Linked DNA regions of Homo sapiens: all the other regions are linked to region 1. The links come from fine-mapping of genetic effects on gene expression. A gene starts in region 1. Each other region holds a variant in brackets. All regions are shown on one strand. Distances are between the middles of the regions.

Evidence for each region. PIP is the estimated chance that this variant, and not a neighbour inherited with it, causes the effect.
Region 2: its variant is the best candidate, but not a certain one, in a credible set for the expression of CENPQ in whole blood (INTERVAL, PIP 0.72).
Region 3: its variant is the best candidate, but not a certain one, in a credible set for the expression of CENPQ in whole blood (INTERVAL, PIP 0.59).

Annotation. Positions count from the first base shown.
Region 1 is chr6:49,459,828-49,469,504 of GRCh38, forward strand. CENPQ (centromere protein Q) reads left to right here and starts at 3,543. Exons shown (of 9, transcript NM_018132.4): 1 at 3,543-3,626. It overlaps MMUT (methylmalonyl-CoA mutase), which reads right to left and starts at 3,426. Exons shown (of 13, transcript NM_000255.4): 1 at 3,276-3,426. RefSeq lists enhancers at 2,609-3,509, 3,096-3,165, 3,510-4,409.
Region 2 is chr6:49,323,522-49,333,963 of GRCh38, forward strand. No RefSeq gene overlaps it. Among named protein-coding and RNA genes, the nearest start is that of MMUT, 130 kb to the right of the region's middle. The variant A/C (reference allele first, on the strand shown) is at 5,615.
Region 3 is chr6:49,520,730-49,531,171 of GRCh38, forward strand. It overlaps GLYATL3 (glycine-N-acyltransferase like 3), which reads left to right. Exons shown (of 6, transcript NM_001010904.2): 5 at 916-1,042; 6 at 5,759-7,349. The coding sequence ends at 6,185. Among named protein-coding and RNA genes, the nearest start is that of C6orf141, 25 kb to the right of the region's middle. The variant TTTG/T (reference allele first, on the strand shown) is at 4,479.

The sequences.
Region 1 (9,677 bases):
ATTTTTCAAAGACTCTGTATCATGTGGAAGATATACTACAGCCTCCTAATTAATTTTTTCATTCAAAGTGCTTTTATTAAATATCAGTTTATGACCGACATTATGTTGGGTAATAGAGAAAAAAGTGATGAATAAGACAAACAGGCATTCAAGGCCTTCATGAACTGGTCTCTGTTTCCCCCTCAGACCCATCTCTGTCTTTGTCCTCTTTATGCATTTTGTGCACTAGAAATACTGGATTACCTACAGTTGGCTGCACATATGTCAAAGTTTTCTGAATTTGCTCTTGCTCTTCCTTCTGCCTAAAATGTTCTTCTCTGGCTAATTCAGCTAAGGCATTATCTCCAATTTGCAGCGTTTCTATGTGCCAGTAACATAGAAGGCTATAAAGACATCACAGAGAGTAGCAATTTTAATCTTTACAATACCCCTAAGAGGTAGGTACTATTATTATCCTTATTTTACAGATTAGGAAACTGAGGCACAGAAGAGCCAGCATTGATTGGAACCTATGCAGCCTGTTTCAAAGTCCTTGCATTTAACTAATATGCACACAATTCATCCCAGAACCCATAAGGTGAGCTAAATGGCCTCTTCAATAATCTACTTCTGTGCTAGTTTATAAACTGCTCCAACATTAGAGCTGCATATTCCGGATAACTAGCATAGACTTTTATACTAGGTTGCTGGGTTCAGCGTCATCATTTTCCAGATGTAGAAACTGAGGCTCAGAGAAATAAAGTCGCTTGATCAAAATCCCACCTCACAAAGCCGTAAACTGTTTACCTGAATTACTAAAACTTGTCAGAGTCATACAGCGTAAACATATAGAGCCCATTGTTTAAAAAGATATTGAGATGCAAACATTAATATATTCACTATACTATGTGTTTTATACTGGATAAGGCAACAAGTAAAGGGAGTTTCAAATTTTATTTTCCATACCACTTCTTACCTATCAGTTTAGTAAAGCTTAAATGAAATCAATACTCAACACTTATTATGGGGTCGTTAAACAAGAGACATAAACCACTGGTGACAGTATTAACTATTTTAACTACTTTGGAAAGTAAATTGTCAATATACATGAAATGCTTCAGAAATGTTTATGCCATTCCACTGAGGAACATTACTCCTGGGAAAGCTTCTGTAGTAATATATAAAATAGATGTTTCCTATAGTTTTATTTGTAATAGAGAAAACTTAGGAAAATCGTAAGTATCTCATAACATATGAATAAGTGAATTACAGCATATACAAATGATAGAATTTCATGTAGTTATCAAAATATGTTTAGAAAGCTGGCAAAACTAATCTTTGATGTCAGAAGTCAGAAGAATGGTTACTTAATGGTTGCTAGAATACAACAGGAGCAAGAGAGGGGCTTTTGGGGGTAATGGTCTTGATCTGATTGCCACTTACATAGATATATTCTGTTTGTGGAAATTCATCAAATTATACAGTTATGTTTTATGCAGTTTCTGTAAATATATGTATAAGTAAAAAGTTAAAAATGTGTTATGCATAGTTTCCCAAAAAAAGAGAAACAAACTCAAAAAGTAGTAAGTAAAAGACTCAAGACACGTAATTGTAAGTGCAACAGGTTCAACTATGTAAAAAGTACATAGAACAAAGTCTAAATGGAAACATAACAAAAAAGGCTGGGCATGGTGGTTCACGCCTGGAATCCCAGCACTTCAGGAGGCCGAGGCAGGTGGATCACCTGAGGTCAGGGGTTCAAGACCAGCCTGGCCAACACGGTGAAACCCAGTCTCTACTAAAAATACAAAAATTAGCTGGGCATGGTGGCGCACACCAGTAATCCCAGGTACTCAGGAGGCTGAGGCATGAGAATCACTTCAACCCGGGAAGCAGAGGTTGCAGTGAGCAGAGATCGTGCCACTGCACTCCAACCTGGGCAACAGAGAGAGACCCCGTCTCAAAACAAAACAAAAAAACCTTCCATTTTTTTAATACTAGCACGATTTTTATTCTTTAAATCCATGGGGTCCTTGTCATCCATCTTTTTGCAAGCCATCCACTACATTTACTAGCTTAAAAGGTGGATGAAAAAAATAATGAAGCAACAACTAAACTGTTTCAATAGTAATCCTGTAAAAGGTAATTTGAAAACCACCTGAGACTAAACTGTTGGCAGGAAATATCACACTCATTTCACGTGGGCTTTCCTAAATCTGAACAACTAATAGGAAAGAGCCCCGTTTAAGTGACTTCCTGAAAATCACATGTGAATTGGTGGAGGCTGGAAACAGACACCATTTTTAGATAAAAACACAACTACTGCGGATGGCAATACGACCTCTGAATTTTCTCAGAAGACCATCAAGAGAGGCCTCAAGCATTCAAAGAAGCAACATGCAAAGCAAATATGTTACTGACAACTAAAATGAGTTAAAGAGCAATGATTAATCCCACCCCCACACCTCAAAAACAAATCAGTGAGAAAAAGATTTCTTGAACCAATAAGTTTCAAGCTTTGGCTGCTGACGTATGATTGCACATTAATACTTCAAGAAGGTACTTTGATGTTCAACTAGTTGGGTTTGGAGATGGAAACATAGGGCATGAAAATTATATTTGATATTAGCATAAGTACATCATTAAACACAAAATTATATTGGCAGAAAATCATCAAGTGGTTTAAAACTTTACACACATACGTTATCCAGGGCTTCGAGCTTCCCTAAGACCACCTTCTTTCTAGATAAAACTGAGAACGAGTTAGTAATGTAAGCTTTTATGTCAATTTAGACCTGTCTTTTCTATTCTACCTCTCACTCTTAACACTGTTTACACTCTTAATCCTGTTTACACACAGAAAATCACTTTTATTCCCGAAAACTCTTAGAAAAACCCTGACAATAACATAACCCACAACCTAGAAGGGAGGCAGCCATGAAGCAGGCGCATCCCTTTGGAACCATACAAAAAGTGACCTCTGCCAACGGGAACAGTTCAGGGTGCTTAAGTGGCCAAAGAAGATACCGACATGGCCCCTAAAGTATTAAAAGCACCTTCTTTCCAGAAGTACCTCCGAATTGCCAGGGACTTCGCCCAAAACTAGAGGTTGGTCGAAGTGAAAATCTAAACCTAAGGAGAAGGCAGAGAGTGGGATCCCGTCACAGTAGGAAGGTAAAGAAGACAGAAGTAAAGGACAGAGCGGGAGAGAAAGGACAAAAGTTCAAAATACAGGGGTAGAGGAGGGACAGGAGCCAGAAGAATGGAGCGATCTGAAAGGTGTACGTCCTACTCACTGGTAGGCCTGTTTTGGACTCCGCTGTGGGAGAGGGCGGCTGCACTTCTGCGTCCCCCGCCTCACCTGTCAGACATCCACACAGCCAGGCCTCCCCGCCCTCACCAAGCCCACACAAACCGCGCCACCGCCAGCGTCAGCCGGACGACTCTGGGGGCGTAGGCCGACACCGCCCTCCCTCCAGCCAATCTAATAGCGCTCTCATGGGCGCATTCCTGATGACGTTTAGGGGTAGGGTTAGATGCCCGTTTCCGCTTTCTTCCCACCCACTTCCGGGTCTCCTCTGTTTACGAATGTTTGGGCGCGAATTACTCTAAGCGCGGCTCTCAGAAGGGTGCAAGAAGAATCAGTGGTGAGTCGTGATATCCTTAACCGGCTGGGTGGATCTAAAGTTCAGGGATGAGTTTTAAAGCCAACGCGTTTGTGGCAGACTCCGCAGTTTGCATTTGAGGATAGCGAGGGGGGATTGCTTACGGGGAAATGCCCGATGTCCTAAAAGATCTGCCCTTAGGATCCTGAGATTGAGATGTTTGATTAGGGGGGAGGGAGCAAAGCCATGAATACTTCCTATTTCTCCCGAATCATCCTCATGGCTCATCCTCATTGCTAAATTTCTCCCGCGGGCACTAGTGAAGTCAAGTGCAGCCTTGGACATTAGTGTCTGTGTTTCTCCAGGAGTCCTACTCACTCTTGTGCCCACATAGAGGTCTAAATTGAGGTAATTGAGTCCCATGAGTATCAACAAGCTGGTAAGAAAAACAAGACAACCTAGAATGCCTCCCTCTCTCCTAAAGCATATAGTCTGGCGGCAAACTACTGTACCAGCCTTATTTCTTTTCACTTCTCCTATACACATTAAAAGCCTCGCTGGATTATCCTGTCCCTGAACACGCCAGGTTTTTTGTGTTTTTTCCGAGCTTTCCTGCCGTCCGAGTTTTACTGTTTTCCCTTGGATGCTTCATTTTTCTACTTTTTGGCTAAATATTTCAAAATGTTATTAGAATAATACTTTTTCTATGAATAATGTACAAACATACTTCCGAGATATTGCGGGGTCGGTTCCAGACCAATAAAGCCTGTCACACGATTTTTTTGGTTTCCCAGTGCATATAACAGTTGTATTTACACTGTATTGTAACCTATTAAGTGTGCAATAGCATTATGTGTAAAAAAAAATTACATGCTGTAATTTTAAAATATTTTATTGCTAAAAAATGCTACTAATCATCTCAGCCTTCAGCAAGTCCTAATCTTTTTGCTGGTGGAGGGTCTTGCTTGATGTTGATGGCTGTTGACCAATCAGGGTGATGGTTGCTGAAGATTGGAGTTGCTGTGGCAGTTTCTTAAAATAACAAAATAATGAATTTTGTACAGCAGTTGACTCTTCCATTCACTAAAGATTTCTCTGTAGCATGTGATGCTGTTTGAAAGCATTTTACCCACTGTAGAACTTCTTTCAAAATTAGAGTAAATCCTCTTAACCCCTACCATTGCTTTAGCAACTAAGGTTTTGTGATATTCTGAATTCTTTGTTGATATTTCAAGAATATTCACAGCATCTTCACCAGGGGTAGATTCCATCTCAAGAACTTCGCTCATTCATAAGAAGCAACTTCTTTTCCACTAGTTTTATCATGAGATTGCAGCAATTCAGGTACATCTTCAGGCTCCACTATTTCTCTTGCTATTGCCACCAGATCTTTCATCACTTCCTCCACTGAAGTCTTGAACAAAGTCATGACCTTTACAAAGTCATCCATGAGGGTTGGAATCAACTTTTTCCAGACTCCTGTTAATGTTGATATTTTGACCTCCTCCCGTGAATCATGAATGTTCTTACTAGCATTTGGGATGGTGAATCATTTCCAGAAGTTTTCAATTTATTTTGCCCAGATCCATCAGAGGAATCACTGTCTAGGGCAGCTATAGCTTTACAAAATGTATTTCTTAAATAATATAACTTGAAAGTCAAAATTATTCTTTGATTCATGGGCTGCAGAATGGATGTTGTGTTAGCAGACATGAAAACAGCATTAATCTCCTTGTACATCTCTATCAGAGCTCTTGGGTGACCAAGTACGTGGTCATTGAGCAGTATTATTTTGAAAGGAATCTTTTTGTGAGCTGTAGGTCTCAAAGATGGGCTTAAAATACTCAGTAAACCGTGCTGTAAACAGATGTGCTGTCACTCATGCTTTGTTCTTCCATTTCCAGAGCACAGACAGAGTAGATTTAAAAGAATAAGAGCCCTAGGATATTTCAGAATGGTCAATGAGCATTGGCTTCAAGTCACCACCCATATTAGCCCCTACAAGAGAGTCAGCCTGTCTTTTGAAGCTTTGAAGCCAGGCAATGACTTCTTTCTAGATATGAAAGTCCTAGATAGCATCTTCCAATAGAAGGCTGTTTTGTCTTCATTGAAAATCTGTTGTTTAGTGTAGCCCCTTCATCAATTATCTTACCTAGAACTGGATAACTTGCTGCAGCTTCTGCATCAGCACTTGCTGCTTCACTTTGTACTTTCATGTTATGCAGATAGCTTACTTCCTTAAACCTCAGGAACCAAGCTCTGCTAGCTTCAGGCTCTTTTGCTACAGCTTTCTCACCTCTCTCAGCTTTCATAGAATTGAAGTGAGTTAAGACCTTGCCATGAATTCGTCTTTGGTTTAAGGGCGTGTTGTGGCTAGTTTGATCTTCAATCCCGGACCACTCAAACTTTCTCCCTATCAGTAATAAGGCTGTTTTTGCTTTCTTATCATTCATGTCTTCACTGGAATAGCACTTTAAATTTCCTTCAAGAACTTTTCCTTTGCATTCACAGCTTGGCTAACTGGTGTAGTTTCCAGCCTATCTTGGCTTTTGACATGCCTACCTCACCTTGCTTAAACATTTCTAGCTTTTAATTTAAAGTGAGAGAGGTGTGATTTTTGCTTTCACTTGAACACTTAGAGGCCATTGTAGGGTTATTAAATGGCCTAATTTCAATATCATTGTGTCTCAGGGAATAGGGAGGCCTAAGGAGAGGGAGAGAGGCAGGGAACAGCCAGTTGGTGGAGCAGTCAAAACACAACGCAACATTTACCTATTAAGTTCTCTGTCTGATATTGGCATGGTTCATGGTGCCCTAAAACAATTACAGAGTAACATCAATCACCATAACAGATATAATAATGAAAAGGTTTGAAATATTGTGAGAGTTATCAAAATATGACACAGAAATGTGAAGAGTGAGCACAATCTGTTGGAAAAATGGCATCAATATAGTTGTTCAGTGCAGGCTTGCCACAAACCTTTAGTTTGTAAGACAACAACAACAAAATACAGTGTCTGCGAGGCTCAATAAAGTGAAACACAATAAAAAGAGTTATGCCTGTACATTCTTACCCATAGCACAAACCAGTTTAAGACAGTCATTCGCTCACTTGCCTCTTTATAACATTTATAAATACACATAGTAATTATTTTCATATCTGTCTCTACCTGTGCACTATCACTAAGCTGTGGTTTCCCTTGGATCTAAGAATGGGACAAAATACCTATTCATTTTTATATGCACTGTGAGTAGCCCAGAAGTGATAGAAACAATGTCTTTTGTTTATTGGATTCTTACTATGTCTCAAATACCGTTCTAGGTGGTTTATATATTCTTTGTTACATCATTTTTGCTTTACAAAAGCCTTTAATGTTAGTACTTTTATTAATCGTTTTACTAATGGGGAAAATGAGTTAATTTACTGGCCCAAAGATATACAGTTAATTAAGTGGCAGGGCTAGATTTGGAGCTTGAACAATTTACCCTCGTTGCAGGACTGCTCTTAACCATTATGGTAGTGTTCTCAACCTGGGTTGATTTTGACCCAGGAGACATTTGGCAATGTCTGGAAACAATTTTGATTGGCTCTACTCAGGGGTTGGAAGTATTCTAGCATCTGACGGTCTACGTAGACCCAAGCATGCTGCTAAACATCCTACAATACACACCACAGTCTCCACAACAAAGAATGATCCATCTAAAATGTTAATAGTGCTGAGGTTGAGAAACTTTGTGCTATAGTCTAGTGCCTCAAGTAGGTTTCATTGTTAACAGTACTTCTCAAACTCTGTTAGACCAGTTTTGCTTTTTATTTCTAATCAGTCATAACTGATACTTTTGTAAAATGCAATTAAAAATCAATTATTAGTCAAACTCCCTTGTGGTATAATACCAGGAGTGAACTCTGATGTAAACAATGGATTTTGGGTAATATGATGTGTCAACAATTACAGCAAATGTACCAGTTTGGTGTGTGATGTTAATACTAGAGGTTGCAGGGAATGGGGAAGGGCAGGGATTATATAAGAAGTTTCTGTATGTTTTGCTCAATTTTCTGTAAACCTAAAACTGTTCTGAAAAAAGTCTTTTTTAAAAAAATACTAATTACTAGAAAATGATATGGCAAAGACAAGGCTAATTATTTTATGATAAGGTTCAATGTGCATAAAATTACTCTATCAAATTGCTACAAAAGTTTCTAAATGATTACCTTCAATTTCCACACTTGATTATGGCAAACAGTTTGAATGAGATTTGGAGTAGCGCTAAATTACATGTTATTTTAATAAAGAATATCAAGAAGAAAATGATTAATGGACCCAAGCTATAAATAAGTACCAAATGAGACAGAGCAAAAGAGCCACAGACTTAGAGAGAAATGAAGTAGAATAGTTAGGAAGATTTTGAAAAGAAGGTGGCTCATGATCTGAGAGGGTGGGCAGAGACAGAAGAGAGCTGCTCAGGTAGAAGGTACAGTGTATGTTTGGGAGGCAGAATTACTCAAAGTGTGTTCAGGAAATCATCAAATCTAGCTAGAGAGGGAGATTTGATTAAGGAGTAGTAGGAGAGAAGTATGAAAAGGTAGGCAGAGTTAGGTTGGTAAGGACTAAAAATGGCATGGTAAAGAGTTTGAATGTTACACAGAACGTATTGGGGTAAATTTTTTACTCAATTAATTTGTTCCAAAATTTGGGATTGGGAGGGACTAGGCAGGGCTTGCTCATGTCTTGTCCACACAGTGTGGGCTGCAGCATATTGACTTAGGTACATGTACCAGACTGGCCAGTTGGTGCTGGCTCTTGGCTGGGAGCTCAGCTAAGACTTTCCTGGGGTTTCAGTTCCTCTCGGTGTTGGCCTTCCTCCTATGGTGGTGGCTGGGTTATAAGAGCAAGTGTTGGCCGGGCTCAGTGGCTCACGCCTGTAATCTCAGCGCTTTGGGAGACCGAGGCAGGAGGATCACTTGAGGTCAGGAGTTCGAGACCGGCCTGAACAACATGGTGAAACCCCGTCTCTACTAAAAATACAGAAAATTAGCTGGGCGTGGTGGGGGGTGCCTGTAGTCCCAGCTACTTGGAAGGCTGAGGCAGGAGAATCGCTTAAACCTGGGAGGCAGAGGTTGCAGCAGTGAGCCGAGATCGCACCACTGCACTCCAGCCCAAGCGACAGTGCAAGACTTCTTAAAAAAAAAGCAAGTGTTTCTAAGCAAGAAGAAGTCAAAGTTGCCAGTCTCTTCATGTCTAAGCCAGTAAGCTAGAACAGAATCACTTCTACTATATTCTACTGCTCAAACAGCTTCAGAGTCTGCCAAGATTTAAGACAAGGGAACATAGACCTTACTGCTCATTAACAATCATGAGAAGGAATGTGTACCATTTTTAATCTAAAATCTCAGCTGTTACTTGTCCCTTCACCTGGATGCTCTTATTCAGTGAACAACTTGAACTATTGTACATGTCAGCCCTTCCAGGAGAGATCTACAAGTGAAATTCTGTCATGTGGATGGGTTTTTAAGTAGGGGAAGTATAAGGGTGTAGATGTAAAGTTGAGGTAATTAGGCATTTTAGAAATTGAACACAAGATAGAGAATGAGTGTTTGGTAAGGTATCACATTGTTCAAGAGCAGGGTAAAGTGATATTTTGACTTCCACTGCTTTTTGTAACTGGTGTGATATGTGGTTGCTAAATGTAGTTTGTGATCTTTCTGTTAATTCTTTCCCAATTTTTTTTCCAGTCTTGTGTGGAGGGGAGTTTGAAGCTTTTAACGTTTGAGAGGATAGATTTATCATTGTCTTTCTCTAAATCTGCACATATATTTAAACTGTATCAGTATAATAATTCTGAATGTTTAGAAAATAAATGATGAATAATTTATCTGTATATCTAGCTATGGCTAATATGTGTATATGTTTATATGTGTATATATATATTTTCTAGGCATATATAGCTAATATGTGCATATACATATTTCCTTGTATACTGCACCTAACTTCTATCCACTTCTTATGGTGTAATGCAAGAATAAGTATTTCATTCTTCTGTTCCTTTTATCAGAAATTAGTTTGGTAATAAAAGAGGGAAAATTACTCTAAA
Region 2 (10,442 bases), 140 kb before region 1:
AGTTGGATCCTGTGGAGGGCTATGCTTTGAGAGCATGGAATGAAACAAACATAGATTGAGTCTTACTATAACCACAATCCTGCTTTAATTCAAGCCAGCCCCTGATTGAATTAAGGTGGTCAACCTCCCTTCTTTCTGCCAGAAGGATAGTGAATCCTCCCTGGTAGAAGATACTATCTAGATTCACTACAGTATTTTATACTTGTTGTTCAGCATTCAATCAAAAATTACCACCCAGCCAAAGAGCATGAATAGACATTTCTCAAAGGAAGGTATACAAATGGCCAAAAAAAAATATGAAAAAAATGCTCCATATAACTTATTATCAGGGGAATGCAAATCAAAACCACAATGTGATACCACCTTACTCTTGCAAGAATGACCATAATTAGAAAATCAAAAAAAAATAGATGTTGGCATGCATGTGGTAAAAATGCAACACTTTTACACTGCTGGTGGGAATGTAAATTAGTACAACCACTATGGAAAACAGTATGACTATTCCTTAAAGAAGTAAAAGTAGATCAACCTTTCAAAGTAGAACGTCCACTGCTGGGTATCTACCCAAAGGAAAAGAAGTCATTCTATAAAAGACACATACACACATGTTTATAGCAGCACAACTTGCAATTGCAAAAATATGGAACCAACCTAAGTCTTCATCAATCAACATGTAGTTAAAGAAAATGTGGTATATACACCCTATAGAATACTACTCAGCCATAAAAATAAACAAAATAATGCCTTTTGCAGGTACTTAGATGAAACTAGAGGCCAATATTCTAAGTGAAATAACTCAGGAATGGAAACCAAATATTGTATGTTCTCAGTTATAGGTGAGAGCTAAGCTATGAGGATGTGAAGTCGTAATAATGATATAATGGACTTTGGGAACTCAGGGGGAAATGGGGGGGGGGCGAGAGACAAAAGACTACATATTGGGTACAGTGTACTCTGCTCGGGTGCTCTGGGTACACAAAAATCTCAGAAATCACCACTAAGAACTTATTTGTCTAACCAAAAACCACCTGTACCCCCCAAAAGCTATTGAAATAAAAAATAAATAAATGAGGAAAAAATTACCACTCATGATTTAGAAAATACCAGATATACACCATATATAAAAGTGATTCATGTATTGGCACTAGCAGTCAAGGACTTTAATTATGATTGGTAACGCCAAGAATATAGAGACAAATATAGAGAAAATAGACAAAAAATGGACAATGTAAGAGGATTGAAATCTATAAGAAAAAAGAAGTAGACATTCTAAAGCTGATTTTAAAAATATATTGATTTAACAAACCAGTGGGTGAGATTAATAGCACATTAGATATAAGAAAGATTGGTGTTACCAAAAATTAATAATTAAAAAGTGTTAAAAGACAGAAGTACAAAAATGAATAACACATAAAGTAATGTAAGCAATATGTGAAATAAAGAGAAAAGATCTAGCATACCTATAATTGGAGTTTCAGAATGAGAGGAAAAAGAGAATGAAGCAAACACAATATTTAAGATAAAATGGCCAAGAGTTTCCAAAAGCAGATGAAAGACACTGACACAAGGATTTAAGAAATTCAGCAAAACATAAGTTTAATACATAAATGTAATATGACTACAGAAAAAACAAAATTACATTTAAGATTTCTGTCTCCTCTATTTCTTCCCTCTTTCTCTATTTTCTTATGGTTTTCACCAGATTATTTTTATTTTTTATTTTAAAGTTACTCACATACTTTAATCCCACCAGACATTTTTCAATTTCAGTTTAAAGTTTGAAAGACTTTAAGGGTAAACGATCAAATGACACTCAACATCCAATCAAATAGCTATTAACTAAAGCAATTACATTTTATGCCCAGTATTCTTTCAGAACACTTAGAAAGCTAAATTAATCAATATATAATAAGTGCTAACATTTTAATTCAAAACTTTTGGAGTAATCCAAGTTTATTAAGACAGTTTTGCAGCCCAGCTACTTATGATCTACAATTTGGGGTAGGCTGCAGGGAAAAAGAAGGAGAGTGGCTAAGAAACTGCACTCCACATTTGAAGTTGATAATTATGCTTACAGTTCTGAATATCTCTGTATTAGTTCATTTTCACACTGCTATAAAGAACTACCTGAGACTGGGTAATTTATTTAAAAAAAAAAGAGAGGTTTAATTGACTCACAGTTCTGCATGGCTGGGGAGGCCTCAGGAAACTTAAAATCATAGCAGAAGGCAAAGGGGAAGCAAGACACATCTTACATGATGGCAGGTGGGGCAGGGGCACAGGTGTCACACTTTCAAAACATCAAATCACGAGAGAACTCACTCATTATCATGAGAACAGCATGGGGGAAACCACCCCCATGATCCAATCACCTCTCACCAGGTCCCTCCCTCAACACTTGGGGATTACAATTTGAGAAGAGATTTGGGTGGAGACACAAGTCCAAACCATATCAATCTCCTATGGGGACAATAGCAGAAAGCAGAGGAAAATCTCAGTGCTAAAGGAAGTGAGATTACTTCATAACACACCCTGATGATGAGAGGTTATATTGTGTCAACTTCTTAACTTATACATGTAACTGAGTGATGACACAAAGAAGTAAATGCCATTGAAAGAAAGTTTTTAATACTCACCATTTCCCCTGGTAATGAGAGGCATAGCATACCATACAGGCTACCCAAAGTCTGTCATATGCATGGGTAGGAAAGCAGACAAACAGAGGAACTGGGACTATACTTGTATGACAATCGTGGAATAAAGTAACTAGGTGGAAATGTTCCCTACTGGGAACTAAGAGGAAACAGGCAGGTCAGGGTTAGTGGTTGGGAGGATTGTAATACAACTTCTGCATGTCCATGAAAGCTAACTTGCGGTAAAGATGTAAACAATATTGGTTGTTAGTTTGGCCCTGTGATCCAGCAGGCTTATGGAGAGGTTAGGAATAATAGATGTCAAATAGTCAACACAGAATCTGAAAATATGATTAATACAGGAGGAAATGTCTCACATTCCAATGTTCATGATGCATGCTTTCTTACTTCTTCCTGATTTTGTCAGCTTCCTTGTGCATGCTATAAATAGAGAATAATGAGTTTGTCCTTAAAAGGAGAAAGGTTTCACAATATGTTCGTGGTGCTTTACTGATAAGGTCAGCCCTTTTTTTGTGTATGTATAGAACATTGTAGTTCTGGTATTAGTGACCTTCATTCATTAATTCACTTATAAAGTATTTATTAAAACCTACTATGTGTTAGACATTGTGCTAGATGCCAGCAATACAACAGGCTCATAACATCACTCCTGCTTTCAAAAAGCCTCCTATCTAGTGAGAATAGAGATAGTCATACAGGTGATTAGCTTATAGTTTGGTTAAGTGGTGAAACTTAGAAGAAGAAAAATTAACTTGTAGAGGCCTTTGTAAAAGTACTTTATGAGAATTGGTGGGGTTGGATCCACATTATTATGGGCTAAATATTTGATGGTCATATAAAAGTAAAAAACTTAAAATGCAGATAGTTTTGGCTATACTCTCAATCACACACTGTGTATTTGTTTCCACAATATTGTTTATCAGTTGTAATCTCTTCTAATAGTGGTCTTGTTCATGCTAGTTTGAAGTCTTTCAAAAAGCTTACATATAATGAGCCAACTATAACACAATATGAATCATAAAATATGTAAAGTGAAAGTGCTACAGAAACACAAAAGATAGAACTATCGTATGACTATGTCTTTTGCTTAGGACTGTAAGAAATCATCCCATATTTTTTATGAGTTTTTTGCAAGTCTCTGCACTAGGAGGTGAATTGATAGATTTTATTTCATCCTTCACTCATTTTAACCAACTCACCTGAGTTGATATGTTTTGCAGTGCCTAGACCAGCTTGCTCTGCCTAATGAGCATGATTTTAGGTGGCCCTATCTGGTTATCAGAGGGACTTTCATTTTCAGCTCCAACATGTAAACAGTTTCAAAGTTGTCACTCCCATTATTACAATAAGAAAAAGGCTGAACAAACTTGAAATCAACAAATTTTCTCAGATGCATCAGAGAATTGAAGTAACAGGGCAAACCCCAGACTCTGGAGAGATTGGAGAATACAGAGATTCATAGCCAAATACAGGCAATCACAGCCAAGATCAATTTAACAGGAACAGAACTGTTAGGCCACAAACTGGTGTGAATACTTAAATAGTAATTTTGATGAATTGCTGGAGACTAGTGTGAAAGTGACAATTCCGAGGGTTTCAGTCCTAGAGCGACTCCCATATTTTCACAGGTTTTACCTAATGGAGTCTCACTCTGTAAAGATTTTTTTTGAAATCCTCATATTTATGGCAAAGGAAAGAATAAAGTAACCATTTTGAATAAAATCCCAGGGCATTTTCCATAAGAAAGTCCTACTCTCAGAAGGAAATCTTTACCAGGTCCATATCTGAACTGGGAGAAGGCCAATTACCCCACTCCAGCTCCATTTAGCCTTCCTACCTCATCTAAAGGGTGGAAAGGAAGCTAAGAAATATTCCTGAAAGGCAACAGCCCAGGGATGGAGACACACAAAAAGACTGAGTCCCAATTGCAGTATAATAGAACACTTACCCACCCACTCACACACACACACACACACACACACCCCTTACCATCACATCAACAGGACTCCTGTATAATAACAATGAATACAACTAAAGGAACAGCAGATCCTAAATAAAGCTCAGATCCTAAATAAAAAGGAGTCTCTATGGAAACACAAAGACAACAGAGGATACAAAAACCAGGACTCTAGAGGAGTCTGACGCTCTGGCTCCTACAGTCACAGCAAATATTGAAAACAGCCTACCTTCTAGCCAGATAAACATAACTTCTTATGCCAAAGACCTATTTACCTCAGTTCTTATTACCTAATAATCATATCTGGCTTTCATAAAAAAATACAAGGCATGCTAAAAGGCAAAAAAGCACAATCTGAAGAAACAAAGCAAGCATCAGAACCAAACTCAGATATGACACAGAATTATCAGATAAGGAAGTCAAAATTACTTTGATTCTTATATTAAGATCTCTAATGGAAAACATAAAAATAGATATGCAAGAACAGATGAATAATGTAAGCAGAGAGATGGAAACTCCATGAAAAAAAAAATGGAAAGAAAATTCTAGAGATCAAAAACCCTGTAACAGAAACAGAGAATGTCTTTGATATGCTCATTAAAAGACTGGACATGGCCTAGAAATGAATTAGAGAGCTTAACCTATTTCCTATTTAGGAAAAAAAAAAGTGCAGCTTGCTGCCAGCACTCATTTAATTTTACATAAACATGATCTTTGAGGCTGGAGCAGATCTGACTGATTTTCAATGTGAAAATAATGTATAAAAACTGTTTTTGGAGTTATTTCTAAACAGAACTTGTCTCTAATCCTAATATAACAGAAATGTATATGATGGTTACAGACAATTCTTGGAGCAAATGGAAACTGGGTTAAATATATGTCTATATAAACTTGCCATACTGGATATTATAATTGCATATCCTCAATCAGCAACACTAGTTCATGGGCCCAGACAAAGAACTTAAAAGAAATGAATTGGACACAGATTTAGTGGTGAGAGAAA[A/C]GAAGAAAAAGCAAAATTGGCAATTAAGGGTATAATAAGGTTAAAAATTTGGGAAATAATATAAGATTAAATCAAGTAGGGCCGAAATGGTATTTATATGAATAATTTGTAATAAAAGTTAAATGCACTAGGTAATTATACAAAATACTACTTCACTTCTTTGGAGAAATGAGCCTAAGCTAATCTTTCTTAGATGATAATGTCAAGGCATTACACTTCAGGCCATTGAAAAATATTCTGGATATATTATCTGTTGATGGCTAGGAAACATTTTTTAATTTATTTTAATTCTGTGACACGTTGTTTCTGGCAGAGGAAGAAATAAAGTAACCATTTCGAAAAAAATCCCAGAGCATTTTCCATAATGAAGTCCTACTCTCAGAAGGAAATCTTTACCAGATCCACATCTTTCTCTCTCTCTTTCTCTCTCTTTCTCCTCCCCCTCTTTCATTCTTTCTCCCTCTCACTTCTCTTTTTTCCTTTTTGCCCTCTCTCTCCCATCTACTCCCTACCACCAAAGAAATCAGGGGTTTACCTTCTTAAGACCATACCTCATTTTCTCCTCTTGTACTTTACATTTATTGGGCTTTCAAATACTCAGAAGCCCTGTTTTCTAGTTCTTCACAGTTAACAATAAAATCTTAATTATACATACAAAGACACTAAGAAACAAAGAGATAAAAACAGCCTCTTTAAGATTACACAACTGTAAATAGAAAAGCTAGGACTCAAACCTAGGAGTCTTCATATAAAATTCATGTAATTTTTATCTTACTATGTTGCATTTCATATCTGCAGGGTTCCTCCTGCCACTTTATCATCCTCAGTATCATATACTAAATGTAGATTTCAATATGCATGACTAGTAGAAATGAATTTTTAGTTTTATGTTATGAAACTCCAATCAACCTGGATAGCATAGCTACCAAAGTCAAGCATTTCTTGCTATTTTGAAAAAGTTCATTTAAACTTTACTAAATACTGAGTTTAACCCAAAATCCTTCCTGTACACTAAGACAGCCTAGATGACTCCTCCTCAGTATAAAGGACTGGGCATGTTTAACATTGCTAGGACAATGCTATTTAGAGTTTAGGAGAAGCTAGCAGGACACTTTGACCTGGTGCCGTCCACCTTCCAAACACACTCAACTATTTCATATAGACAGAAATATAGTTTTAACCCCTGAACTAGTGGCGACATCTTTTCTCTCCTGAGGCTGAATTATGGATCCCTCACATCTTATTTGAAACACATTTTTACCACCCTTTGTTCTGCTCAACTCCTCACTTTCTCTGTTAAACTATTTATTTCAGTTAAGTATATCACAATTTATAGGCTATATTTTTCAGTTCATCTTGACCCAGGGTCCTGGAGAGTTTCCCTTATTCATTATTATTTTATAAAACACTCACTATATTCTATACCATGGGCTCAGTGCCGTGTAGAAAATACAAACAAAGCTCAGCTCTTGCCCAGAGAGGTCAAAATCTGCTAGAGAAAGTGGGCATATGCATAGATAATGCTAGTACTGGAATATAAATTTCCCAAGAGAAACAGAAGAAGAACTCAAGAGTTTTTCCCCAAACGTTCTTATTTCCTTCACTTTAATATTTACTACCCTTGATGGTACCAAGCTTAATTTTACATGCAAACATGTTTGGCTATTTCAGCATCAGAAATTATTTAGTAAAAAATAACCATAAATAAAAACCAAGTGACATTTTCAGTATTTCACTTCTTAACCAGAATAATCTTCATCCACATAAGGATGTTACAGAGGGAAAGATATCATATAAACATCACATTTAAGCTTCAGAAATGGTTTCAATTAAAGAAATGCTATTATCTCCTAAGCCCAGCCATTTAAATTCTATCAGAGAGTCTTGGCATTGTTTTGCTTAATAAACACAGTTTCTAAAATAGTGCAAATTAATTGAGTGTATTTAGTTTATACATATGTTGCTGCAATAGAGCTTCACAGTAATAAGTATAATTAACAAGAAAATAGCAGCAAGGCATAGAGAACCCTATAATTTCCAACCACTTGTTATTAGTACCCATAAGAAATACCTCAAAGTTCATTATCTCAAATTTTCATGAAACTAAGTGAGTATAATTAAGAGCTCAACAGCTCCTCCATTTGTTTGTTAAACAGGGTCTCATGAGCCTCACTGAAAGAGGTATGATTTAAGAATGTTTTATTGGAAAAAATATCAGGCTGAGCAGATTTTTATAACCAAAGTGTTCAGAAAACATACATACCATGTGCAAAAGATAAATAAAAAACTAAAAAGACAATGGTGTTTTGCTAATTTTAACTTCATTAACTATTAACTGCTACTAATATCTAAGATGTTCCTCCCTTTGAAAAATATGAGTATTTTCAAAAGAGGTCTGGACTCAGCAAAATTTGTGCATTGCATATTATTTGAGTTAACACACAATGTTTATAAAACTGTTTGGAAAATTAACAAAATAAAAATTCAAGGCTGAAATTCAGCTATAAGACAATGGCTTTATTGGAGATTCATGACTAATACTTTGAAATGTATATGGTCTTTCCTCATAACTCATCTTAGGTTTCAAATGTGTTGTGTTTCTGAGGGTTGCTCCTGGACTATTCCCATATTCAGTAGATGCCATTGCCTCCATATTGTGATTGCTGTTAAGCTAAAGACAAAACAGTCAAGGAAGGGACAGACCGGCAAGCAAAATATTCAGGAAAGTGCATGACTGGAAATCATGGATGAGAAGCAAAGAGGTAAAAATAACCTTTAATTATAAGTATATATACACACACAAACAAACATACATGCAACTGGTAAAATGAAAAACCAAGGCTCAAAGCCATAAACCTGAATCCAAAATTCATATGACAGTCTCCTCAAGGATGGCTCCCAAAGATCTTTGCCATTTAGGATTTGTAATCTTGTTTCCTCCCTGCTCATATTGTGGCAAAGTTGGTCTTTGTGATCAATAGAATGTGGCAGAAATGACGGTATATCATTTCTGATAATAAGTGTTAAAAAAAAAAACACGGTCCCATCTTGGTTGCTCTCTCTCTCTCTCTCTCTCTCTCTCTCTCTCTCTCTCTCTCTCTCTCTCTCTCGGATTATTTACACTGAGAGAAGCCAACTGTCCTGTCATGAACAGCGCAGTAGAGAAGCCCATGTTGTAAGGAACCACGGTCTTTAGCCAACAACAGCATAAATGATCTTAAAAACAAAGCAGATCCTCCCAGTCCAGTCAAGCCTTCAGATGACTTCAGCCCTGATCAGCAGCTTGACTGGAACCTCATCAGAAACCCTGAGCCAAAACTATGCAGTAGCCACTCCTGGATTTCTGACCTGCAGAAACTATGAGATAATAAATATCTATCACTTTAAACTTCTAAGTTAAGGGAAAATTTGTTATGCAGCAATATATAACAAGATAACCATGGGCCAAATTTTAATAAAAAGGTCTAATAAATGTGCTGGGTGATGTTCATATTATATACTAATATTAGAAAAACAAGAGTTTTACAGACAGAGCTAAGACTGGTCTCCAGGGTACTGAGCCACATGGGAAAACATGGGCAAGAACCAGTATTTGCAGCCTTAAATTCAAGCTGGGAAAGTGAATTTGTTAAATGGATTCTGATTATAAGAAAATAGATCTAAGTTTTATGTTCATAGGAGATGAGGAATCAGGCATGGAGAGGTGTAGACTAATCCTTTTGGAATAGCATGATCTTGCCCTGCGTAGAAATCCAAGCTTATCTCATGCCAGGTCTCTCTCAGTTCATCCTGTTATAGTCACATTGGGTTTCTATTGTTTTTTAAGAAAGGCCAAGCCCATTCCTGTCTCAGGACATTTGAAAGACTCTACAACCAGCTCTTAGCATAACAATCCCTTTTCCCAACCACATTCTGTGAGTACATCCACATGCTAGTATTCCTCTTCCAAAATTTATCACAATTGTTTGTATATTTATTTACTTGCTTCTTAACTGTTATTAAAAATTAATGAGGGCAGATATATTTTCCCTTCTGTTCACTTCTATATTCACTAAGCCTTACATATTTCCTGACATGTTGAAACTACTAGGAAAGTAACTGTGGAATCTTATAACAGGTGATTCCTTACAACCAAAGGTATAATAATTGCTAATCTCAAAAATGGGGGGTATTCGCCTTTGGCCTGCACTATAATACTTTATGGGAGCAAATGACGTTAGCAGGTAATGTGTTTCCCAAATTCTCCTGTGCTGAGGATTTCAAGGGAGTACTGTTTTCTCTAAGGTAAGGTAGTGGTTCTCAAATGGTAGTGTGTATCAGAATCACCTGAGGGGCTTGTTAAAACACAGATGACTAAACACCATCCCAGAGTTTATGATTCACTTGGTCTGGCATGGAGTTCCATGAATTTCTATTGCTAACAATTTTCCCAGTGATGCTAATGCTGCTGGTGCAGTGATCACACTTGGAGAACCACTGATCCAAGGAACATTCACCATACCCAGTAATATTTACATATGTTCTTTATTTCACCATACCCAGTAATATTTACATATGTTCTTTATTACTCCCATACTTGTTAAAATGGAGATAAGCAAATAGTAACACCATTTACACAGCCACAACTTATGCTTTCTTCCTGCTAAACCTGGAAAAATTAATGGATCTCTGAAAAAGGAAGATGTGGAAAAAATGTAACTTTAAGCCAGGAAAAAAATGTTCACAGGCTATCTCATCTCTCAGTAAAATAAATAAAACTCATATTCCAAGAAAGTAGCTTACATAGAATTGATATCATGCCTCTTGGAAATGCCAACAAAAGACATCT
Region 3 (10,442 bases), 61 kb after region 1:
GAAGGGCCAGGCATGGTGGATTATGCCTGTAATCCAAGCGCTTTGGGAGACCAAGGCAGGAGGATCACTTGAGGCCAGGAGTTTGAGACCAACCTGGACTTATAGGGAGACCCCATCTCTACAAAAACAAAACAAAACAAAACTTAAAAAATAAATCAGCCAAGTGGTGGCATGCACTCAGGAGGCTGAAAGAGGGGGATCATTTGAGCCCAGGAGTTCATGGTTATAGTAAGCTATGATCATTCCACTGCACTCTAACCTGGGCAAGAGAGCAAGACCCTGTTTCTAAATAAAATAAAGAAAAGAAACCATACCATTTTTGTGTACCACTATGAACATTGTCTAGTACAGTACTTTATATATATACAACACCTACTGAATCAAGATTTATCAAATAACTATGACAAGTGGAATCTGGGTGAGGTAAGTTCAGGGTAAATCTCACCAACACTGAGTTACACCTTGAGTTCTGTAATGGCGAGGTGTAATAGAGAGTCTTTGAAGTTGGTTTGCCACGCCAAACAAATCTAAGCTCTTGTATACTTCATAGACTTTTAGAGCTCTAAAATGTCATCCTTTATTTCGTGGAGCTTAAGGTTAGTCCGAGAGTCCAAAGTATCAATATTCTCCCAAGAAATTCTAAAGTCCCGTGAGATATTCCCATCATAAGTTTCTATGAAGATCGTGATGAGTGGTCCCAATGGGCAACATCATGGGAATTTGAAACGCCTACAAAAATTTGAAACTTAGACAATAGCTGTAATAATTTAGATGTAAGTATACAGTGGTTAGGATAATACAAGGTGGCAAACTGCTAGTATTGATGATTCTCAGTATAAAATTACTGCAACAAATTTCCTTTTTGCTTTTTCAACTAAAATGCCCACATATTAAATTATGTCTTTCTATACACAGGGCTGCAGAGTGAGTTATATGATGTTTCCAAAGCGGTTGCCAATTCAAAGCAGTTGAATATAAAGCTAACTTCCTTCAAGGCTGTTCATTTTTCTCCTGTTTCATCTCTGCCAGATACCAGTTTCCTGTATGTAAACCAAGTTTTTGCATTTGGGGCAGGACTTACTGCTATAGAAGTACACGTAGCAGTAACTGGGGTACTTAGTATCACTATGGAATATCCAGGCACTCTGGATTTCAACCATTGAGCACAAACGGGAGTATGTGTGTGAGTGTGTGTGTGTGTTTACTCTTCTCCTCTCTCCTGTGCTTGACTGCTCATAATTTCATTGAAAATCAAATCAGTATATTTGTCCATAGTTATAAATGAACTCAGAATTCCTGTGTTTTCATAGTATCCATGGAAAAAGCATTCCTTGGTGTCCTTATCCCTCAAATAATTCTAAATAATATATACTGTCTGAGTCCAAAGTTGTTATTGATTTTGCTGTTTCAGGGATGGGGGTATATAGCTGACTTATGTTGCGCTCTTATGTGTCAGGGACTACATATCTTAAATATATTATCCCATTAGTTCTTTCCACAACCCTGTGAAGTAGGACTATTATTATTGCCCCTCCCACCCCCACACACCTTTTTAAACAGAGATGAAGTAACACACAAGGGCAAATTATAGAGCCAAGAAAGAATCCCAAGTCCAACTCCAGATGCAATCTTTCAAAACACTCATTAGTTTGTATCTGCATTTATTCTTCTTTTGGAGTCCCTGCTCTGTCATTTACTAATTACCTTTCTGAGTCTCAATTTCTTCTGAATTCGTTCCTTTAAGTGTTTTTTAAATTAATATCATTTTAAATCAACAAATAATAATTGTACACATTCATGGGGTACAATGTGATGTCTTGATAAATGTATATACTGTAGAATGATTAAACCAAGCCAGTTAATATTAAAAAAAGTTGTAATATTTTCCTGACACGTTGTTTTGCAAGAGACTGAAGCAAGATAGTTAAAAATCACCCACCTCAACGAATGTTAATTTTCTTTACTCCTACAGTGAATGTTGAAGAAATTGTTGAGCAAAACAGCACTAAACCTTAAGAATGTACATTTTAAGTCATAGGAAAGCAACTGGATTTTCTTTTATTGTATTTCTAATTATGAAAATTTCAAACACACATAAATGTTTAAAGGATAGTATAAAGAACCTCCCACCAATACATAGCTGACCTTATTTAATTCATACAACTATATATTCTTTCCACTTCCTGGATTATTTTGAAGAAAATGTCCCAGACATTATCCTTAAATATTTTAATATGTAACTCTAAAAAATGAGTCTTAAAAAAAAAACACCCACTATACGGATATTACTCCTGTGTCCGAGGTCCCCAAGAACACCCACAGGTTCTATGGTTCACTATATTGACATACAGGACTCAGCAAATATACTCACGGCTATGATTGATTACAATGAAGAGATAAAATGCAAAATCAACAAAGGGAAAGGGAGCATTGTGTAAAGTCCAGAGGAAGCCAGGCACAAGCTTCCAAGAGTTCTCTCTCAGTGGAGTCACACAGAATGTGCTCAGTCCCTAAGCAATGACCTGTAATGATATGTGTAAAACGTTTCAAACTCCTGGCCTCAAGCAATCCTCCTGTCAGGGCCTCCCCAAATGATGGGATTACAGGCATGAGCCACCGTGCTCTGCTAAAAGTTGTCTACCACGGAAACTTATTATTAGACACTCAGTGCCCAGGATTTTATTGGCAGCATCCTCTGCCTAGCACAGACTGATTTCCTAGACTCGCAGAAGGAAAGCCAATGTTCAGCAAAACCCACACTGTTTGCACAACTTAATCACAGTGAGCCATTTATGTGAGTCCTGGAAATGGTAGCCCCCCTCCAGATCCATGTTCTCAGACACCAACCAAGGGTCAACCTTGCAATTCGGCCTTTTTAAGGGCGATGGCCTCAAGCCTTCTATGTTAGTCTTTTCTGCACATTCCCTTAAAATACTGTTAACATATTTCCTTAAAGTAAAATAACATTATTCATATTTCCGATATTGTCGTAATATTTTTAAGCTTGTTTTGAATCAACATCTAAACAAGGTTCATACATAGACCTCTTTAATACATCTGAAGTTTCCTTTGACTTATAAGTTCCCCTTCATCTTTATTTTTTGCATTACTTTTCTGTTGAAGAAACCAAGTTATTTGTTCTTTGAAGTATCCCATAATCTGTTTACTATTGTATGCCTGAGGTATTATTTTAAAATTTCCTCTGTCCAGTCAAGCCTTTTGAAATGGGGTTTTAACTTGAACTCTTCTGCATACAGTTAGACATTTTGTCTTTTTTTTTTTTTTCTTAACTTCCCACACAACACTGATGCAAACAATTTGCCTTTAACACCTAAGTCATTACTCAACTGCGTGAACTCTATTTTGAACACCCAGCCCTTTGGAAACAAGGTCAGAGTCTCTAACACAACTACTCCTGAAACACTTGCCTTAGCAATGATTTTATTTGCAGTGATATTTCTGCCTGCTTTAAAGTTCATTTTCAAAAACTCAATTGAAAATTCCATTAGGCCAGCTAATTTTTTCCCCCTGCTTAGTGGATAGATGACTGGCCCAGTTCCATAGCTGATAATATGCCTGAAATGTGCAATAACACTACACACCTCTAATTAAAAGAAAACACAAATTTTTACTTTATAAAAATGATGACAAGAACATTATCTCTTACCGGTCACTGGGGATAGTCTTATGATATTAATAGCTTTAAGACTGAGAGCAAATTCTGAGGCACTGTCAGCCTCATAGGCTTTCAACTAAGTAATCCATTTCAGTTTTGAGAAATTGCAGCAATTCTTTTTCTTTATCTTAATATCAGGGGCTTTATATAGTAAACTAATAAAAACTTTCATACCATTAGAATAAATACAGTGAAAGCTAGTGGCCTATACAAATACTGCCAATGGAAAAGTTGAAGGTTGGTACTATTTAACCTAGAAAACAGCAGGCCGAGGAGACAGTTTTAAAGAACAAATATGGCCAGGTGCAGTGGCTCACACCTGTAATCCCAGCACTTGCCGAGGCGGGTAGATCACCCTGAGGTCAGGAATTCGAGACCAGCCTGGCCAACATGGCAAAACTCCATATCTACTGAAAATAAAAAAATTAGCTGGGCATGTTGGCACGCGCCTGTCATCCCAGCTGCTTGGGAGGCTAAGGCAGGAGAATCGCTTGAACTCAGGGGGCAGAGGTTGCAGTGAGCCACTGCACTCCAGCCTGGGCAACAATGCGAGACTCCCTCTCAAAAAAAAAAAAAAAAAAAAAAAGAACAAACATTTCTAAAGCATGCACATATGCTTGGCATATTAAGAGATTTTATTTCTTTTTTGGCCATGGATGCATAACCACAGAAGTTCTATTCTAAAACATTTTTTTTTTTTTTTTATTGAGCAAAAGATTAGGGCTTCAAGAATCTGGACTTACCAAGGCCTCAGAGAGGATTTCAGCAGAGTCAGGACTAAATAAAAGCAATTCTGAGGGTT[TTTG/T]TTGTTGTTGTTGTTGTTTACAGAAAGTGTTAAAAGAAAAACTTTAGACAGATTAAATTTAGCAACGTTGGTCTGGGTGCAGTGGCTCACACCTGTAATAATCCCAACACTTTGGGAGGTCTAGGATGTTGGATCACTGGAGTGCAGCAGTTGGAGGCCAGCCTAGCCAAAATGGTGAAACCTTGTCTCTACTAAAAATACAAAAATTAGCCAGGCGTGGTGGCACACCTGTAATCCCACACGCACGTGAGGCTGAGATACGAGAATCGCTTGAACCGGGGAGGTGGAGGTTGCAGTGAGCCGAGATTGCACCACCGCAACTCCAAACTGAGAGACAGAGCAAGGCTCTCAAAAAAAAAAAAAAAAAAAAAAAAAAAAAAAAAAATTCAGCAACGTTTATTTGAGCAAAGAACAGTTCATGAATCTGGCAGCACTCAGAATGAGAAGTTCAGAGTTATACCCACCAGTGGGAGATTTTATACGCCAGACACAGAAGCAAAGTAGGTAAATCCTCTGATTGGCAACAGTTAGGTATATTTGGGCATGGTCTGCTCACTTACCTGCCTGTGATTGACTTGTATAACAAACTCAGCTGTGCATTATAGTTCTAGGGTTGGTTTTGTGTCAAGTTAGGTTGCAGTTCAACACGCGGGGACTCAAGGTATGGAGGGAGCTGCAGGCCAAACTTAATTTATTTAACAACAGAAACACTTTCCTTAACCTGTGCTGAAGGCAAAAGCAAGTGAACATAAAATTAGAAGCAACGACTTAAATTTGATGTAATAAGTGTTTTGTCTTCTCAGAAATGAAACCCGGAAAGGTGTTGGTAAATCGGGAATGGTGGATTCTAACTCACTGAAAATCTTAGGTGCCCTCTCAGGGATGGTTTCTCAGTTTGAACCAATATGAAAAGAGTAGTTATAGGTCGGGCATGGTGGCTCACGCCTATAATCTCAGCTCTTTGGGAGGCCGGGAGGGGTGAATCACGAGGTCAGGAGTTCGAGAACAGCCTGGCCAACATCGTGAAATCCCGTCTCTACTAAAAATACAAAAATTAGCTGGGATGGTGACGGGTGCCTGTAATCCCAGCTACTTGGGAGGCTGAGGCAGGAGAATTGCTTGAACCCGGGAGGCAGAGGTTGCAGTGAGCAGAGATCACGCCACTGCACTCCAGCCTGGGCGACAGAGCAAGACTGTGTCTCGAAAAAAAAAATGTGTAGTTATGTATAACCACATGAGTCTGAGGTCCTATTTGTTTTTGTGTCATTCTGGTCTAGCAAGGGGCCTTCCCCACGACTAACCTACCTGAGTGTTGCCAATGCGGATCTACTCAACCGGACTTGGTCCCGGGGAGGCAATGAACAATGTCTCCGGTACATCGCCAACCTCATCTCCTGCTTCCCTAGTGTGTGTGTCCGGGATGAGAAGGGAAACCCGGTCTCCTGGTCCATCACAGACCAGTTTGCCACCATGTGCCATGGCTACACCCTGCCAGAACATCGCAGGAAAGGTTACAGCCGGCTGGTGGCCCTCACGCTGGCCAGGAAGTTGCAAAGCCGGGGATTCCCCTCTCAGGGGAACGTCCTGGATGACAACACGGCGTCTATAAGCCTCCTGAAGAGTCTCCATGCTGAGTTCTTGCCTTGTCGCTTCCACAGGCTTATTCTCACCCCTGCGACTTTCTCTGGCCTGCCTCACCTCTAGCCCAGTAAAAAACTGCAGTGGTTTTATTACTTTCCCTGAGCATACACACACTCTTGGCTGCCAACGAGGGGAGAGTTAAAATGGGAATCAGGGGACTCTTGAGTTGTTGGAAAGGGTCTGGAGAATATATACAGGATCCACTTGAGAAGCCTTAATTTTTCGTATCTCAGGTTTCTCCAGTAAATAGCTGTGGGGGTGAAGAGTAGCTGTGGCTGAAGACTGAGGACGATTGTCCTCCTGTAGGATCCACTGTAGGAGAATAGGTTCTAAAGCCAGCAGTTTTAGTGTACTAGGAGAAATTACTGCATGAGAACAAATGATTTAACAGAGGACCACGTGGCTACTGCTTTTTGATTGCTGCTTGGACCTCTGCTCTGTATTCTTAAAGCCACACCGCTTCCCTACTGCCATCATATTCCCCTGTCCCCACTGCTATGTCTCATCAACCTCTGTTCCTAACACCTCTGCCACCAAGTTCTCTGTAGAGTAACCTCCTTTTTCCCCTTTAATTACTTGCTCTTTACTTCTGCCTAGGACTCTAGCCTATAGTTCACTGCCCTGGGAATGTTCAAATATAGTGGTTCTTACATTTTAGTGTTTATCAGAATCACCCAGAGGGCAGGTTGCAACACACATCACTAGGCCTCTCCTTCTACGAGGTAGGGCCCAAAATTTGCATTTCTAACAGCTTCCCACTGCTTATTTGCCTTGGATGAATGACAATATGGGCATTTTGATGCTATAAACAAATGCTGTCACCATAGAACTAGACTTTACCTATAACCTATTTCAGCCCCCTTATTTATAGTCTACTTTCCCATATAAAACTAAGATTTATATATAGGGGTGTTTGGGGGTATGCAAATGAATATATAACATATATGCATACACATATATATACATTCTCTTCATTTCTTTTATATGTATAGGTATATACTCATAGAATTTTGATAAGATAATAAATTTTAACCCTTTGATTACATATGAAAAATTTGAGGACCAGAGAAAATAAATGACTTTTTCAAGATTATATTCTTTATAATCAGTACTGGAGGCAAAGCCAGAATGCTGCCATTTTAATTCCAATCTGTTATTTTCACTAAATCATGTATCCTTTTTTATAATGAAAATTAAAATGCTTACATAATTAAAATATTAATTTTAGTTTTCTCTTATTCTTGTCATTATTTCTTAATTTGGGTTCTGATTGCTTGTGTATGTATACCTTTCAAGGTCAGTAAAGAAAGAGATAAGCATCACCAGCTCTGTTCTCTATTTATAATAAAAGCAGGCACTAACACAATAGTTAGATTTGCCTTGTCTTGATAATGTTGACTTAGCTATATAGAAAATATTGGTTTCTTATCCCCAAGGAGGTCACAAAATTCTGACTACAAAGATAAGGGAAAATCCAACTTTCAGGCATTCATTCTGAGAAAAGGAAGCAAACTGGCTGAAGTAAAACACATTTTAATTAAAAAAATAGGACTCAGTAAGAGTAAATATATGCTTAGTTCATCCTGAGCCCACAGTTACCTGGAAACTTATCTAGCCTTGGATCCAGAGGGGAAAGCACCAAGTAACCAGAGTCCATAAACCTCTTAGGAGAATATGCCCTAAGGACGCTAATTATGTTTAGCATCGCTTAAGCATGAGTTAATCCTGCTTGATATATAGCAATATTATTATAGCCTTATTTTCTTCCTAATGATAATTTGCCTGACATTTAACGTTTAACTATGTGCTAATAATTGTACCAAATATGAGATGTATATAACTTAATCCTGGTGAGGGATAAGGTATTGCTTTGTTGTGGGAATTCTTGCTTAGAGGTGTTATGAGTCACCAAAGTCATGCAGGCTCTAAGTGGCCAAATCATGATCAGAACATGGGTTTGTTGGATTGCAAAGCCTATACTACTAGTCATTATGCTAATTGGCCTCTTAAGCAGCTTGGAACAGTTTGTAAATAATTATTCCCTTATCTCGTTACATTCTGAATTTTCTACCTTCACCCGCACCTCCAAAACAGACCCCATATTTGAAAGATTTTTGTTCCTACCAAATTGCTCTTATACTATTTTCTTACTTTCATCTTCCAGCTAACTATGTTGGATATAATTGCTCAACTTTTAACACTGTTTCTGACCCTTTTAAGGCATGTGCAGAGAAAGTCTGGAGTAAGGAGAGGACAAGGAGAAGAGAAAAACTCAAGAAGTAGAAACGGGGCCAGGCGTGGGGGCTCACACCTGTAATTCCAGCACTTTGGAAGGCCAAGGCAGATGGATCACTTGAGACCAGGAGTTAGAGAACATCCTGGCCAACATGGCAAAAACCCATCTCTATTAAAAATACAAAAATTAGCTGGGCATGGTGGCACATGCCTGTAAGCCCAGCTGCTTGGGTGGCTGAGGCATGAGAATCACTTGAATCCAGGAAGCAGAGGTTGCAGTGAGCCAAGATAGCGCCACTGCACTCCAGCCTGGGCAACAGAGCCAGACTGTGTCTCAACAAAAAGAAGTAGGAAGAGGCTTGATTAACATAGGTTTTATTTGTTAATTCAAGGAAATTCTTCAATGTAATATAAAAACCAAAAAAAAAGCCTTAAGCAGCGCATTAATCTGTTTGGAAATTAGTTGGGAGGCTATAAGCTAAGCAAAAGGTGGTGGTAGCTTGGATCTGAATGCTAGCAATGATAATGGTGAAAAGTGAACAGTTACTTAAACTATTTAAAAGGAAGAGTTGTCAGAACTTAATAATTTAGTGGCTGTAGGGTATGCTGAGAGAGAAATGTCAAGGATGACTACTGGGCTTCTACGTTGTGAAAGCCACAGCTGGTGATAGTTTTCACTGAGATCAGAAACCCTGGAAAAATCTCAGATCTGGAGCAATTTGTAGCAGGGAAAATTGTTTGTTCAGTTTTGGGATGTTGAGTTTTGAAACATGCAAGTGATGGGACCAAGTTGGATATTTGAGTCTAAATCTCAGAGAATTTATTTGGGATAGATGTATTGACTTAGATGATAACAGATATAGATATAGATATAGATATAGATATAGATATAGATATAGATATAGATATAAATATAGATATAGATAACAGATAACTGATATAGATGATAACAGAAGCCATGAATTTAGCTGAGGTTGTCTAGGACTGAACCTTAAATGCATCAACTATTTAAGGCAAGGGAAAAGAAAGGCTCTGGAATAGGAGAAGGAGCAGCCAGAAGATAGGAGGAAAGCCAGGAGATGACTCCCATGGAAGAGAAAGAAGAAAAATTTAAAAATGGAGGGATGGTCAATGGTGTCAAATTATGCTGAGAGGTCAAGAATACATTAGGAATGAAACATCTTCATTCCATATTTCACTCTCAAATATTTTAAACATATGTACCAAAAAGAAGCCAGAAACTGCATATTGCATAATCCTGTTTCTATAAAGTTTAAAACCAGGCAAAATGAATCTATATCTGTAGAAGTCAGGAAGTAATTACCCTTCAGAAGGATAGTAAGTAAAACTGGACATGAAATGGCTTCTGGATTTCCAGTAATATTCTGATTCTTGACTTGGGTGGGTTACAAAGGTGTGTTCACTTTGTAACACTTTGTTACACAGCTGTGTTCCACTTGGTAACACAAGTATGTTCCCTCCAGCCCTGACTTAGCCAGGCCCTTCCCTGCTGGGCTCAGTCTTTCCATAGGCAAATCTGCATGACTAACCACCTCCTCCTCGCCCCCTGTGAGTCAGGGCCTAGAGCATATGATTATCAAGCTATATAATTATGATATATCTACTTTTCTGTATGCAAGTTGTACTGCAATAAGGAATATTCGTTAATAAAAAACAGGCCTGAAATCTGGAAAAAAAATGCATATTTCCATTACATAAAAATCCCACTTTTTAAAATTTATATTGGTATAATATAAAAGTATGCAAAGATTTGTATAAAAGGATGTTTATTACAGCATTGTGTGTAAAGGTGAAAAAACCTAAATATTTTAAGTAATTCACTGGTTAAATATAGTACAAGCATTCGATGAAATTTTATGGAGTACTAGAAAACTAGGTTTGGTGATACAGAAAAGATGTACATAATAACACTAAATGCAAAAACAATTACAGAAAATATGTGTAATCCATTTGAAATTCAACTGTGAAGGTAAAGAGGGGGCAAGTATGTAGGTAAATAGTTTTGAAGACAGTTTAATAGGTTTTATTAAAGGTAAAAGTTGGTAAATGGTGGCACGTATTTTA